Regions from separate parts of the Homo sapiens genome. Here region 1 is linked to region 2. The links come from fine-mapping of genetic effects on gene expression. A gene starts in region 2. The other region holds a variant in brackets. All regions are shown on one strand. Distances are between the middles of the regions. Region 1 has its middle 130 kb from the start of LINC02821. Region 2 holds the start of PRANCR (progenitor renewal associated non-coding RNA).

Region 1 (8,340 bases), 190 kb before region 2:
AAAAATTCAGGCAGCTGCATCCACGTGGATTTCTGATCACGTGAGTCACTGTTAAAAACCTTGGCTGCCCTGACCAAAACTTTGATCGTTTTGCAAGCTGTTCCAGAAATGGGTCAGAGAGTTTTTTTTAAAATGTTTCTCTGTTAGGGAGAAAATAAAAGGATGGGGCTTTTATGTGTGAGTGTTTTGTTAGCTTCTCTGTTTCTTATCAATTTATGATCCTTTAGAAAAGAATAGACCAGGTGAATTGTAACCACAATCACACCCCTGTGATACACAGAGGTGTCATTAAACAATAAGGATCTTGTCCCAGCCAATTATCCTAAGATCAAAATAAAGAAGGGGGTTAGCACTATGTTCTCTCCAAAGCCAAAAATCTCTAAAGCCGCAGAGGAGAGAGCACCACTGCTGGAGAGGCGCTCCTTACCCAGAATGAAAACTGGGAGGAATCTTCTAGCTTCCTCCTTTTACCCACCTTCTGATCTCCTACCAGTCCTTTCTATTGGCCAAACATAGCAAAGCCACCTCACTCCTGCAGGTTGAGTCAGGCCCCAATCACACCAGCCTACCAGGAGCAGGGACGGGCAGGACAGGATCTGCGGGCCAAAAGGAAAACATCTGATAAGTAGGCCTTCCTTTCAGTTCCTTGAAAATGCCAAGCTCTTTCCAATGTCAGGATATTCATATATTCCATGTCCTCTTTCTATAATTCTTTTCCCACCACTATTCACCTCTTATCATTCTTCAAGTCCCAGTTTAAATATTACTTCCTCAAAAAGACCTTCCTTGACTACCTGTGTAAAATAGATCTCCTCTGTTATTCTTTCTTTAAAACCCTCTCTTCTTGCTAACCTTTATAATTATATACATATCTTCTAATTATCTGTTTAATGTCTACCTATCCAGGGGCTAGGAATATCTGTTTTGCTTTCTACTGCATTGTCAGAATCTAGCACAGTGCCTAGCCTATAAAGAGTGCTTAGCACTAAGTAAATAGTAACTATAATTATTACTATCTTTTATTTTTAATAATAGTACCATAATTGGATAATCAGTGAGAGATGTCAGCCCATTCTGAAATATATGTTAATTTCTTTCTGATGCTGTTGTTTTCTTCCTAATATTTAGTAAACACAAGTTGAATGTTTCAGTTCCATGAACACTTTTTAGACATTACCTAGAATACCAAATTTCCATATCTTGAGGCTTCAAAGACCATTAGGGAAAAATTGATACATTCCTTGAACTGTTAAAACAAAAACTATGTTGGCAAACTTGGAATAAACGAATTCTTTTCATCAAATAATCTGTAACTGAAAAGAGAAAAATGTGTACAGTAGAGCAATTTATCATCTGCAAAATCTCTTTATGCTTCACACATTCTGGTTTGGATCTTTTGATTTTTGTTCTTTAAATCTACTGAATGATAAATTTTCCTTGTCATTTCATAGGAGACCTTCATTATTTTTCTCCTACCATCAGTTTATTTTTTTCTCAGTAAAATTCAGCTCCCTTTTCTTTCTTAGCATTTTAACCTACCTGCTTCATGTGGGATAAAGAAATGCCCCATCTTTCACAGATAAAATAAATCTCCACATAAACGGTGACTGTTTTGTCTTTAGAGACTTTGTCTCCAAAATTTCCCACATGTGCCACAATCTTCTTAAGTTATCATACAGAGAACAACTCCTGCAATCGTGGGAAGTGAGGAGTTTGGAGGGCAACAGGTTGGCAATGGGGCGACTGAGGTGACTGTCTTGAGCAATCACCACGTATGGAGCTAAAGAGTCTACTTCCAGGTTCATTTCTGCCATTAGTCTAAGATTCATTTATTCATGAAACATTTATCAAGTGGCTACTGTGTGTTAGACGCTATGCTAGGGCTAGAGATGCATTACGGATAAGCTGTGGCTCCTGTTCTCAGGGAGCTCATTGTGTAGTATAGGGAAACAAGAAAGTAACAAATATTTACAATTTGTGATGTTTAATGCTTTAGGGAAAGTAACACAAAGCACTATGGGAAAATATGGAGGATCCCTAACCCAATTTTGGGCAGGTGTGAGGGTGGGGATGGTACAGCAAAGGCTTTCTGGAGAAAATGATGCTTGCGCTGAAAGATAAGTCTGGATTGCCCAGACAGACAATAGAATAATGTTCCAGAAAAGGCAAACAGTGCTTGCAAAAGTTCACAGCAATGTGTTATTGGTGAATTATAAGTAATTTAGGGCCAGGTTCAGGACAGGGAAGGAAGTGAAAAATGAACTGAAAAAATGAGCAGATGTTGAGAGGTTTTGCATCAGGTGAGAATTTGTTCTTTATCATCAGGTCCTTCTGCACTAACCCAGGTTAAAAGGATTGATGACAGACAGTGGAAAGAAGAGGGACTTTTGGAGTCAGACAACTTGAGTTTGAAACTTGGTCTTGCCACTAGTTTGTAATCTCGGTCAAAATTTCTTGGCCTCTCTAAGCCCTAGTTGCTTTAGCAATACAAAAGGTAATAATGTGCTCTAAAGGATTATCATTAGGGTTAAATAATACATGTAGCATCAGCACATTGCATGATGCCATGTTAAATCTCAACTATTATAAAACAAATTGCTGTAATCAAGAATATCCACACAGAGCTTTGAGTCACATACTTAAGTGAACACAAACTAGAATCTTGTTACCAGAGAGACATTTGTCTGCCTGAACCTGTTTGGATCTTTTTGTTTTGTTTATTTGGCACTGTGTTTTTAATGGTGGTGTATATTTCACAATTTGGTGCTATATCACTGCTTAATAAATGAGTTATCTAGAGTGAATTATTATGTCTTCAGACTTAATCATGCTTCATTTCCTTCATGCCATAGAATTTTTGAGCTAAAAGAGGTTACAGAACTAATCTCTGGAAGCTGGAGAAAAAGCACAATGTTGGAATAGAAATATGTGCTAAGAGCAAACAAATTGAGTATCCATCAGGAGGGAAATAGTTAAATAAACTTATATTTCTATGCTACGAAATACTATGCACCAGCTAAAAGGAATGAGATTGCTCGCTGTGTACTGACATAGCTAGAGCTCCAAAACCTATTGTCAAATGAAAAGCAGGCTGCATAAAGATATCTTCAAAATGACATTATTTTCATACAAAAATATACACACTTGTATAAGTAACATTATATTACTTCTATATGTGCTTATATATGCTTTCTAGGTTACATGTATATAAACACATAGAAAAACTTGAAGTATATACACTAAAATTATAAGTGGCTATTTATTGTCACTTGAGAAAGTTTGTTGGGGCAAGGGGGTAGTATTCCAAGGAGACATTAGCCTTTCAGAAACATTTAAATTTTTTACAGATAATATACTCTTGCTGTTTGTGTAATTCAACATTTGTTTTCAAAAAAGAAACATGGAAAGAGCAAGGGCTTTGAGGCTGGCTGAAACTGGCTCAAACCCTGGCCTCAGCAGCTTGTTAACTCTATGACTTTTGGGAAAACATGACCCCTCTGTCTCAGTTCCTTCATCAGCAAGATGAGGATAGAGCACCTGTCTTGCAGGTTTGCTGCAACAACTGAAAGTAAACCTCCTTGTACATTATTAGCATTCTGTGCATTAGTGGTTTCTTTCCCCTGTGCTGAATGCAATGGCTTTTTTCTTCTTTCTTTAAAAAAAATTTTTTTTTTTTTACAAAATAGGAAACCAAATACAAAGTGGCTAAGTCACTTCCACAAAGCCATACAGCAGTTTAATGTGAGAGCAAGGGGTATAATCCATGTGTCCCACATTATAATAAAGTCAGCATTACACTCTATGGGGCTTTGGGTTATGATGTGTATATGGCTGTTTATAGTAGTAGTTCCAAAGCTCAGATTCCAGGTGGCAGGTTTATTTGCTGATTTGTCATGCAGAGTACCAGATTCTGGGCTTGGGCAACTGTTGAACAAAACAAACCAAGAAAGGCCAGGCAAGGTGTGTTGGGTAGACCTCCGAGGTTATATCTGGCATGACTGTTCTTTTGACCTTGCTGTCAAGGAAATCTAGCAGTAGATATCAGGGGCCTCACTACAAGAAAAACATTGGTATCAGGCAATAAACTAGTTAGCACGAAAGGATGTGGGGTCAAAAATGGACATCTGACATTCTTTTTGACCACCTAGAATCTGAACCCTCTTCCTATGTTTGGGTAATTTTTCGACTTTATGAGGCAGAGATTGACACCCACTATATTAGTTGAAAATGACAGCTAATTTTCCAGCTGCCTTTGCAGCTAGGATATAGTCAGATGGCCTAGGCTCTAGCAATCAGAAGTACCTTCCTTATCAGAGTCCACTTTCTTTAGAATGACAGGGATTATTTGCAGGCCTATGGTGAGTACCCACCAAGGGCTTTTATTACTAATTTTAACTGAAGCCCTGAATTTTAATTTTAACTGTATTTTAATTCTAAACTATTTCGTGAATGCAAAACAAAGGGGATTTTGCTTTCTGATGCCATTGCATAGGAGCAAGATGCTCTATCAGACTCTATGCAATGGCACTCTGTGC[C/T]ATTGTATGCAGTTCAATGATCTTTACCCAGATGAAACCACACCGGAGGAGGTTACAACTCCTGCTCCAGGAAAGAAGGTGTATTTCCTGGGAACCTCTAAGAACTGGTTGAACCTGCTGGTTGACTTTCTTGGAAGAATGAATGACTAAGTGAACATTTTCATATTTCTCCCCTTTTTGTGCTTTGTAATTGCTGCTTGTCCAAAGTGCCTGAAGACTCTGCTTTCTGGACTAGGGCATGAGAACTTACTTCAGTGCCTATGTAGGACTGCAAGCTAAGCTGCTGCATCTTAGCCTTTAATAGGCATCCCAACTACTTGTAACATGCTAGAACTGTGTGGCTCCTTTCTGTCCTGCAGAAAAGAAGGACTCATGTCTGACACCTCTGAGGCCTCAGCCTCACCCATTTCCTGTTTCGATACCACTAACACCATCAGTTCTATATTGGCTCCCAGTGGCTTTACATACGTATATCTCACCCCAAGCTGCACCATACGCCTCTCACCTCCCACCCTAGGGAGGTGTTAGTGCTAAGATATGGAAGCCACAGATGCTGCTTATGGCCTACACATGTGAAACCCTGAAGGGCAGGGAGTTAGTATCCCATGAGGTAAACTTTTGATTTTAAAAAGTCAGCTGGTACATAAGTTCTTCCCCTTTTCTCCCTCTAGATGGACTTTTTTGAGATGCAGTTTATGTGACTTCTTGCTGGACGATCCTGTGATTTTTTTCAGTAAGTCTCAGTAGCTTCACACTTGATCATGTGGTCTCATATTGGCTTCCCCTTTCCTCCTTCTCTCCCGTTGTTTTCTCATACCTGGAAATGCATCTCCTAATAGAGTAGAAGTATTATACCATAAGCTCATTGTCTCAGGCTCTGTTTTCTGGGTAACCCAAGCTAAGGCAATACCACATAATTCTATAAACAAAATTAGGCCAGTTTTGCCATCTTTGGGAGTTTTTCCTCACTTGGGAATCCTTTCTGAGTTTTCACTCAGTTATATCCTAAATGTGTGACTTTGGGAAATTTGCTTAAGCTCTCTGACCCTCACATTCTTCAAGATAACATAATAATGATGCTTGTTTCATGAAAGAAGGGATTAAAAGAAGACTGAAGATCACTTAGTACAGTGCCTGACATGTAACAAATGCTCATTAAATGTTATTATTATTATTATAAAATCAATCATATGTGCAACTTGATGAAGCCCTGGGGGATGAAAAAGGGGGGCTCATTGGCAGACAATTTAAGCAGCTTGGAAACGTATGTTGGCATACCTGTGAGCACATATGATAATATTGCATAATGAATCCTCTAAGTTCCATTCTATTGTCAAAAAAATTTGTTTCAGAAATGGAGCTACAACTTATTCCAGAGTTAGACTTTTGTGGCCATGGTGAACACGATCCTTTTAAATAGAGAGAAGGGCCTGGGTAAGTTTAAACTGAATTAGGTTCTCAGTTCTCCCAGGCTTTGACTTTGTCATCTGTCACTTCCCTCTCAAAGGGCTGGCAAAGCCCAGGGCAGTTCAGGATTCTCTCATCTGAAGTTCTGTCCGTCGATTCTGAGGGGAGTCTGGGGCTGCTGACAGTAGATGGCCTGCCTCTCACATCTCACTATTCTTTGATCTCACAGTTACAATTGTGTTGCTTTTGGTTTTTACTTGCTGATGAAGAGTTTTTTATTATTTTTTATATATATATTTTTTATTATACTTTAAGTTCTAGGGTACATGTGCACAAGGTGCAGGTTTGTTACATATGTATACATGTGCCATGTTGGTGTGCTGCACCCATTAATTCATCATTTACATTAGGTATATCTCCTAATGCTATCCCTCCCCCCTCCCCCCACCCCACAACAGGCCCCGGTGTGTGATGTTCCCCTTCCTGTGCCCAAGTGCTCTCATTGTTCAATTCCCACCTATGAGTGAGAACATGCGGTGTTTGGTTTTTTGTCCTTGTGATAGTTTGCTGAGAATGATGGTTTCCGGCTTCATCCATGTCCCTACAAGTTTCAGTAGCTGATTCGATCAGCTGGAAGAAAGGGTATCAGTGATTGAAGATCAAATGAATGAAATGAAGCGAGAAGAGAAGTTTAGAGAAAAAAGAATAAAAAGAAACTAACAAAGCCTCCAAGAAATATGGGACTATGTGAAAAGACCAAATCTACATCTGATTGGTGTACCAGATGTACACCAGATGTGTACCAACTGGGGAGAATGGAACCAAGTTGGAAAACACTCTGCAGGATATTATCCAGGAGAACTTCCCCAACCTAGAAAGGAAGGCCAACATTCAAATTCAGGAAGCACAGAGAACGCCACAAAGATACTCCTCGAGAAGAGCAACTCCAAGATACATAATTGTCAGATTCACCGAAGTTGAAATGAAGGAGAAAATGTTAAGGGCAGCCAGAGAGAAAGGTCGGGTTACCCACAAAGGGAAGCCCATCAGACTAACAGCTAATCTCTCGGCAGAAACTCTCCAAGCCAGAAGAGAGTGGGGGCCAATATTCAACATTCTTAAAGAAAAGAATTTTCAACCCAGAATTTCATATCTAGCCAAACTAAGCTGATGAAGAGTTTTACGTGAATTTAATTTTCTTCTATCTCTGACTGCCAGAGACTTTGGTGTTTGTATTATTCACAGGGAACTAGATAAACTATAACCATTTTTTATTTTTATTTTATTTTTTTGCTGAGTGTAGTTTCTCACAGTAGCGGGAAGCCAGAATGATTTGTACGTTACTAAATCTTGGGCTTTGCTTAACATGTAATTCTATGGCCAGTGAGAACAAGTAAGGTCCTAGTATTTCAGAACTTCTCAAAGGAAATTAACTAGAATGAAAAATTACACTGTTCAGCAACAAAACCTAGCAATTGCTTAATGAATATTCTCAGGAAACAGAATATTGAGCCCTCCTTCAATCTCATTTTTGTCCTCTGAGTCTGGAATTCTTGTTAAATTAACTTTTGGTATGTGTTTCTCTTTGGTAATGTAGCAAGTGCAAAATGTCCCTCGTACTCTATACAAATGTGCAAAGCAGATGTAGTTTCCTTGAGTACCTCTTAATTGATGTTCTCTCCCTGATATTTCCTTAGCCTGCTGGATAACAGAAAACTAAAAACCAAGTTTTAGGCTAAGTGTGGAACCTTGGTCTGGTCCAATCATTTAAAGTCTATTTAGGGAGTTCAATCTCTGGACAGTAACTCACGTAAATGCTAAATGTTTCAGTGCTCTTTTTTTGCTTCTCTCCAAGATGATGTCTAGGGTTGGGGAGTAGTATAGGCAGGGTTTATGCGTCAAGATGGGTGTCCCCAAATCTATGTAGGGCTCTGACCTCATGGCTTCAGATGTACAGTGGCTGGAACAATGGCAGGGCAACCCTTATCTGGTAACTGAGTAAGGTGGGGTAGAAAGGCTTTGCCAATTCAGCAGATTGCAACACAATACCGATGAGTCATTCTTACTCCAGAATTTCTCTTCGGGTTAGCTGAGGCTTTGTTGGATTGCATCACAGTTCAACTTCGCCCCTTGACCAGTCCTGCTTCCTCCCTCTTTTTTTCACAGGTATTACACCCAAACTCTGTCTCAAAAAGCCAACTCACAAAACTCATCAATTCACCTGTCTTCTGCCACTGCCTTCATACCATCCCTACACATTGTGAGGAGCTAACTTTGAAGGCTGTTTCCAAACACTCTTCTTTGGAAGACAAAGTCTTCCTCTGTTCAAAGGATGTATGGCACTATTCCCAGTGCTCTTGTCCTCCTTTTCCCATTTGGGTAATTTTAAAAGCAATCC
Region 2 (8,340 bases):
AATCCTTGCCAGTATTATCAAGAAATAACCACTTGTTAAAATAGTGCCTGAAGACTAAATTAATGTTTAACATGTTTTGTCACTCATAAGTTGGGCTTACTATTAAACTTTTAACTGTTATAGTATTACCATTCAAAGCTTACACATATTTAAGATGAAGAAACTGAGGTCTAGTAAATTATAATTCAGACCCCTTTTAGTGTGAATTTTAGCCCTGGATATACTGCAGTGCAGTCTTTTTTTTTTTAACTTGTACTAGCCTTACAGATTTCCCAGAAAAAGGTAGACATCTTCTTTATTAAGTTGGAGGTCAGGAATATCCTATTAGTTTAGTACTGTTTTTCCTGTTTCCTAGATTGGATTTTACAAATTTTGTGTTAAGGATATCTGTTGACATTTACTCATTTATTATTTAAAAAGTCTAGCTAATCTTGGATAAGAATTTTGTTGATTCATTCACTCACTAATTTAACAGCATTTATCTAATGCCTACCATGTGTGAAGGATAAAGTAGTGGAAAAAAACAGGTGTAGTTTATATTTTTGTAGGGTGAAGGGAGGTAGAAAATAAACAGTGAATAAACAAGATAATGATAAATTATAAATGCTATTAAGAAAATAGAGGGGCACGTGATTGACAGAGAATAAATGGGAACGTGAGCTATTTTAGATACGGTGGCCAGGGAAGGCCTGTCAGAGATATTTGGGTTAACCTGAAGGAAGAGAATGAGTCAGCCATATCCAAGACAGAAGACCACATCCCAGGCAGAAAAAAAATAAATAAATAAAAAATAAAAAGCAAGTGCAAAGGCCCTGAGACAGAGTATCAGGTAAGATTAAATTCAGTTGAGAACAAGAGACTCCAAAATAGTGGCTTTAATAATATAGACATTTACGACTGCAGGGCTAGCATGGTGCTCTGATCCATAAAGTTCTCACAGACCCTGGTTTCCACCAGTTTAGTTTTGCCATCCCTAGAATGAGAGAACTTGCATGAGGCACAAATTGGCAGCTACAGTTCTAAGCCATCACATCTATATTCCACGGTACAGGATAAAGGAAAAGCCGCATTGAAGGTGTGCACCAACTATCTTTTAAGGATGGTTTTACAAGTGTGCCACATGATATACTGCTTACATCCCATCAGCCAGCACTATTACATGGCTACAAGGAAGGCTGCAAAATATAGTCTTTGTTCTGGGTAGCCATGTATCCATGTCTATTACTATGAAAAAAATGGAGGAATTTTTGGGGACAACTAACAGACTCTGCTACAGACTAGAAAAAGCACAGCCCACGACAGAAAGGAGGCAGTAAGAAGGGTGAGAACAACTTCCTGTGCTGCTTCCTGGGAAGATGGAGAAGTGGGCAGGAGCCAGATTATGCAGTCTTGAAGGCTATGGTAAGGAATTCCGATTTCATTCTGTGTGCATAAGGAAGCTATTGGAGGGTTTTAAACAAGGGAGTGACATAACCTAATAACATTTTTTAAGTGATTGCTTTGGTTGGTATATAGAGAATGGTTTAAATGGGAAAATATTCATGAGGGTACAGATAGAAAGTGATAGCAACTAGTGTGGTTATTGCTGTGGTCCAGCAACAGATGATGGTGGCTCCCAAGGGTTGTACCAGTGGAAGTGATAAGTAGCTAAATTCAGAATGTATTTGTCAGGAAGAACTGATGGTACTGTCTGATGAGTTGTATGAGTGTGAAGAATCAGAAAATTCCAAGTTTTATGCCTGAGCAAATAAGTGAATGGTGGTACTATTTATGAAAATCAGGAATTCTAAAGGAGCAGCAGATTTAGGGAATGAACAAAGGGGATTCAAATGTTGTTTCAGACACATTAGAGAAGCCTGTCCTTTTTATCCCTTGCCATGGCAAAATTTTCAATACCATCCATATTTTTCTAAAAATGGGTGGCCTCCTTCTTCTACAAGTTATACACAAACTCATTCTTCCCTTAATAGGGTATTTTTTTTCCCTCAACGTCTGTAATTTTTAAATAAAGTGTACAGAGAATTTAACATAATACATATTTTGGAAATATACAAAACATGTGCCTATTAGTAAGGACTACTTTTCAGGTAAAAGTAAGAAAATCTAGTAAGATAGTTAAAAGAAACCAAACTACCAAATGGGCAAACTTAATCAACATTACCAATAAAGATGAACTTTTTGATGCAACAGGACAATTTAAAAAATATACCATCTATTGGTAAGAACTCTTACTATAAGAATTCTTACTATACAAGCCTTTAACAAATGCTAGCTCATTAAATACCTAGAGTACCCTCTAAGGTAGGTATTAAAAATTTTTTAACAAATTTATAATAGATTTGGCACAAATAATAGGACAATTAAAGGCTTGTTCTTCAACCCGGCTTAAAGTGAATTCATCCTAAACAAATAGGTGTTCAGTGAGAGTCAAAGTAAGTAGTATCAAATATTGAAAGTAATAGTATCAGTGTATTTTCTCCTAACACTCCTAACCCACACATTTATTATGAAAATGTTTGTTGTTCTATCTCTTCCAGTAAAATACTCAAGGTAATAAAACTCTCATATCAGACTTACACCCTCTGGAAGTCATTCCATAGAGGTATATTCAATCTTTTAACACACCATCTTATGGTTGAAGATGTTAACATGAGAAGGAGGAGAAAGCAGGAAGAGGAAGGGACTATTTGCAGAAGACGGGGAGAAAGAAAGGAAAGACACTAGTATGTGTTGTTCCTCCTCGAATTTTCCTGAAGTGAAAAAAAAACAGTGAAGTAGAGTGTTTGATGAAATGAATAACCAAGCAAAACATTTTCTACCTACACCAGTACCACTAGGAGTTGAAATAAATTCACACAATGTCTGCTGATATGTCAAAACACCTTACCTTCAAAAACATGACAGTTACCTTTTATTTTATAGTATGCTTGTGTTTCTTCCTATTTCTTGCTTTTGACCTTCAATGATAAATGTAAACTGGATTACAGTGATTCTTTTGTAAGTAAAAGGTGACTTTTTAAAAGAAACAACCAATGGAAATAGAAATTTTATTTACTTCAAATTAACTGTACTTTACTCAAATAGAAAAGAATAATTTTCACATTATGAAGCTACACAATTCCAAAATACACATGCTGAGGCTCTTTTTAAGTCCGAATTGTCTAGTAATTACAAAAAAGTGAAGAGTTTACAGATATACAAGGAAATAAAGGCGAATTATTGCAAAGAAAACAAGTTTAATTTCACTTTGAATGACAACGATTTTTCTGGAAAGCAGATACTTCACTCCTTTAAGTTTCCACCCAAGCCACAATAATTTCAAACGGTCTTGCGGATGACCCAGCTGGTCACTCTTGTTTATGTGGGGACTGGAGGTAATGAGAGCCAAAAAAAGTGCTATAAACCTAATTTGGCTAGAGCAAGTTCACACGACACGACCGTGCTTTAAAAACTTGCTCTCCATTATGTACTTCCTTCCATCAGGTTGGGGAAAAAAAAATGGTGGGGATGGTGAGTAAACACACCAGTGGTTTCATCAGAGGGGAACTCACTACTCAGGAGGTGACGGTGACGTGGTGCCGGTCCCTGAAGTACGCGCACAAGCTCCGGAGGTTGCGGGAGCTGAGGGAGGAAACAGGGACACGATCAGATTCGCTCCAGGTGGCGGGAGTGAGGAGGGGAGGAGTGACGAGGCGGACGTGCGGGGGCGGGGGTGTCCAACACAAACACAAACACAAACACGAACACGAACACGCTCAGCGTCCCCGGGGAGGGCGGACTGAAGCCACCTCACCATTCATCGCCCCTGGACCCCGCAGTCCCCCTCGGACTCAGGGCCAGAGCCTTCTGCGAAGCAACCTAGCCCCAGGGAAACGGTAGCGGCCGCAGAAGCCCCGCTCTCTGTAACGGCCGCGGAGGAGCAGCAAGCCTCCCTGTGAGTCGGTGGGAGACAAGACGGAGCGGCGGTAAGGGCGGTAGGGAAGTGAAGCGCCTCTCTCCACCTTGTTAGAAGCGCGCTGAAAGCGGCCTGCCTACCCACCCCATCGCTGCCGTTTTGCAGTCGTCGCTCCCACCTTCCGCTGCCGCCTGGAGGGAAGCCGGAGCGACGGGGGTCACGGCGGCGGTCAGAGGGTAAAGGTCTTGCTCCCAGCAGCCTCCGCGGTGGATACGTCGCCATCTTGGATCCGCGGGACAAGAAAATTCATGCGGTGAGTTTTTGGTAAATTTTCGGAAGTCTGGCAGCGGGGCGCGCGGCGGGGGCGGCAGATTCGGGGCCCCCGCAAGGCGGGGGAATGCCCCGGGGCCGGTCCGGTCGCGCCCAGGGTCCGCCGGTAGCGTCCCGGCCCACCGCTTCCCGTTGCTTTTGTCTCGGCTCCAATCGAGAGACGGAGAGCGGAGCGGGCGGGGAGGGGGGTGGCGGCGGTGGAGGGAGGGAGGGGGTGTGTATGGGGGTGGTGGTGGACCGGACGTAAAGCGTCGCTGTACTCGGGCCGCTGCAGCAGCAGCAGCTCCAGATCCTAGGCCCGGTCCCATCCGCGAGTGGTGGGGCTTCCCCAGACTCCACTCCCCTAGGCTCCCGCCAGCGCGGAGGAGCCGCTGCCGCCGCGCTGCTTCCTGGGGGAGAAGAGAAGGCGGCAGCGGCCGTGGCCGTGGCCGACGAGCTCGAGCCCGCTTTAGACGGCTCTGCCGCCTTCCCGGCAGCTGGTGCTGTCTGTGGCTTCTTACCTTCTCTCAATACACGTATATCATCTGCCAGTTATGTGTATTTCTGTTAGTGTGTTTGCAAGTGTCAGATGGGAGACACTGGACTGGCTAACGGGTGTCAGGATCCTGCAGGCCCTGGGATACCGAAGGCTGTGCATGGTGGAGGGAGAAGGAATGCAACTGCGATGCCGCCTCTGCCACCGCACCAGGAAGGTGAAGCTTCCGTAGTGTCGTAGACTGAGTCCGGATGATCCTGGGGCGGCGGAGGAACCACAGACGCTTCTGTCTGTGAAGTTGCAAGTCCTGGGTTTCTACTTCCGCAGGGGCCTCTCCACCTTTTGCTGTCGTAGGTCTCGCTTAAAAGTTTAACAGAAGAAAAGAGTAGGGTTAAAAGAGGCCTTTGTAGTTCTTCATTGAAGCACTGTTGTCTGTCCGGGTGAAAGCTGATAACTCTTGGTAACTGTGGTCCTTAGCAAAAGAGAATTGGAGTTTTCTTTTATACAAAGTATTTCCAAGGTTTTAGACCTTATATTTATTCCAGGCCTGTAGGTACGGTATTACTACCACAAAAGTCTTACATTAAGGGTACCACCCTCTCAGAGGGAACCTAAACATCAACTTCCTTCGAATCCTTGGAGACATCTTCACTTTTCAACATCCGGAAGACTGAGTGCAACATATTTTGTTTCATTTTCATAAAAGTCTTGGTCAGAGAATCCCACTCCTTTTAAAATCGTTTGGGCAATTCCTCATAATTAAGTACACTGCTTTGAACCCTTAGTTCTTGGCGAAATGGTAAAAAGTACTCAGTTAAAATCAGTTCACGAGGGAGGCCAACTTGAATTTAAGGTTCAAAGTTGAACATATTTAGTGTCATGCTTAATATTAGGAATTTTTAGAGCTCGGAATCATAAGTGTGACTGTTGATTTCCCTTTTGAAGCAATATAAATGGAAAGAATAAAGTATGGGGTGAGGGATGAGATAGAAATTTTAAAGTATCCATTTACATGCAAGGTTGATGTTGAGTTTGGGAATGCTTGGCATAATTGACAACAGTTCTTTCCAAACGTCAATGAATAAATCTCACAATTTTGTAAGGTAACTATTGCAGATTGAAAGGGTTAAGAATCATAGTTGGCTGAAATGGTTAAGTGTCTATATTCACATCCCAGTTCATTGAAATGTTTTATAATGGACCAAGATAATTAGTAAGCTCTGTATGTTGAATTTGTTTAGTTTGTAGTTCTATTATAATGTTAAATCTAAAGAAAAAAATACAAAATACACTTAAAGACAAAACATGTTCCACTCTACTCACTTATTTCTTGACTTTGTAAGATCCTTACTGTAAAAAAGGTACTTTTCTCTCATATTTTCTGAGAGCTTGAATTGTAATAATTTTTGTGAATACTTTGTATTTTAGAGAGGAAGTGAGAAACTGCTGAAGTTTTTTTTGCATCTTGATTAGTGCTTTATCAATACAAATAAGTTAATGTAAACATTTGTTGGCAGGAATCTTTTTCTAAGTATACAATGTAGAGATATCTGTAACCTAATCTGATCTCAGGGAATGAGAATTGCCTGTTTAACCAAGCAACAAATACAGCCTATACAATTTTTCAATTTCTATAATACTTTAATTTACATGGTGGAAAAATGAGGGCAAAATGCTTGTGTATGAGTGATTTATATCCCCAAGTACCTGCTCTTGAAGATAAAACTCAGATTGTGGCTTATCTTCTGATGCTGGGCAAAAAACAAAAACAAAAAAATTCAGAATGATACAACTTCCCATATACCTCCCTACAAGAACTAATTACCTTTGTTTTTGCTTTATAACTTTGGATGTTGCACTTTTTGATTTTTCAGAGATGCTTTACAGTTATTGTAATCTGAAAATTATTTGTTCAAAAGTAAATAAAATTTTCAGGTGTATGAATAGATTTTATTAGAAGTGATTCTAACCCAGTTCTCATTTGTATTCCTTTAGTAGATACTGGTGTTAAAAGTACCTGTATTTTGAAAGACCATTACAGAATTTTTTACAACCTGTATAAGTTATAGTTTTATCTTTTCTAGTGACAGACTTACTTCATAAGATTTTCTGATAATATGAATAAAATGTATGCTTCACATGTATATATGAAATAATGAGTAAGCATTAATAGACCAATGAAAAGAACTTAGCTTACAATTTATTTTCTTGCTCTTTAAAAGCAGTGGTAAATAATAGCTTTTTTTTGTTGTTAAAATTTGTAACTGTAGAAAGTTCATTCTGTTGGGATCACATATTTGAAGGCAAACTAACAATGCCATGTGCTTGCTTGAATAGGCATTTGAGGACAGGTTATTTTCCTGAGATTTCAGGAAAATATACCACCAAACATTTATGATGTTATTTGTTACCTGGATCTGTAGTGGATTTTGTAACACAAAGAGGCAGAATATCCAGGGTACCAGGTAGGGCAGTTTAGGGGCAGAGTTAATATGAGGTGTACTGTAATGTTTGAGTGGAATTACATACAGTGTTAATCAAGAGATCTAGTGCTATGGTAGAACTTATTCTGCTTGATGATACAGGTGACTGTTCTTCCTTACTAAGAGCAGTTTCTACCTGTGATACTTAAAGGGATTGAATTTCACTGTGACTTATATCAGATATTTTGAAAAGAGCTGTGCTAAAGTTGATGTCATTGTAGAAAGTTTGCCTTGAAGTGGAATGAAAGTTAGGTTTTTATTTCTTTGGTTTTTCTGTTTGACATCCTTTGATTTCTATTTTAGAATTCAACTCTTATGACTAATCATGCTGATGTGGTTTGTTCATTTATTTTCTTTGTCTATACTATTAGGAATGTCCTGGAAATAGAATTTGTACTGTGTTTTCTGAGAGCTTGTTCTCTGAAATACAGATGCAAATCTGTTGGTATCTGTTGGTATATCCCTTGGGGGTGTGCTGCATTATAAAGTAATAAAACAGTTTACAATGTTTGCTTTTTGTCAAGAGCTTATGACATATAATATGGAAATACAAAAAAGTGAATTATTTAGGAAAAAATGGGAAATTTTTCCTTTTCTGGGCACTTCAGGGTTTTGTATATGCGTAGACTCAGGATCTAAGTCCACTTAGATATATAGTTAGATATTTTGGACTATTTGCCACTTAACCCTGCACATTTTCTTTTCCTTATTCTTTTTTTTTTTTCTTTGAGACGAAGTTTTGCTCGTCGCTGAGGCTGGAGTGCAATGGCGTGATCTTGGCTCGCTACCACCTCCGCCTCCCGGGTTCAAGCGGTTCTCCTGCCTCAGCCTCCTGAGTAGCTGGGATTACAGGCATGCACCCAGCTAATTTTGTATTTTCAGTAGAGACAGGGTTTCACCATGTTGGTCAGGCATGTCTCAAACTCCTGACCTCAGACGATCCGCCTGCCTCACCCTCCCAAAGTGCTGGGATTACAGGCATGAGCCACCACGCCCGTCCTATTCTTTTTATTCATGTGTATGTTATTGCATGTATGTGTGTGGGGGGCAGGTGGTAGTGCATATTTTATGTATCTTTCACTTCTCTGTTGTTTGATGAACTTCTTCCATACTCCTCTTTGGTATCACTTTCTTCATAAATCTTTCCTGACTCCCCA

The links. PIP is the estimated chance that this variant, and not a neighbour inherited with it, causes the effect.
Region 1: its variant is fine-mapped to the expression of PRANCR in testis (GTEx, PIP above 0.99).

The regions. Positions count from the first base shown.
Region 1 is chr12:70,045,169-70,053,508 of GRCh38, forward strand. No RefSeq gene overlaps it. Among named protein-coding and RNA genes, the nearest start is that of LINC02821, 130 kb to the right of the region's middle. The variant C/T (reference allele first, on the strand shown) is at 4,536.
Region 2 is chr12:70,239,273-70,247,612 of GRCh38, forward strand. It overlaps PRANCR (progenitor renewal associated non-coding RNA), which reads right to left and starts at 4,088. Exons shown (of 5, transcript NR_120460.1): 1 at 4,040-4,088; 2 at 3,552-3,621; 3 at 2,909-2,957. It overlaps CNOT2 (CCR4-NOT transcription complex subunit 2), which reads left to right and starts at 4,161. Exons shown (of 16, transcript NM_014515.7): 1 at 4,161-4,208. RefSeq lists enhancers at 3,447-4,646, 3,821-4,020, 4,751-4,890 and silencers at 3,580-4,119, 4,191-4,450.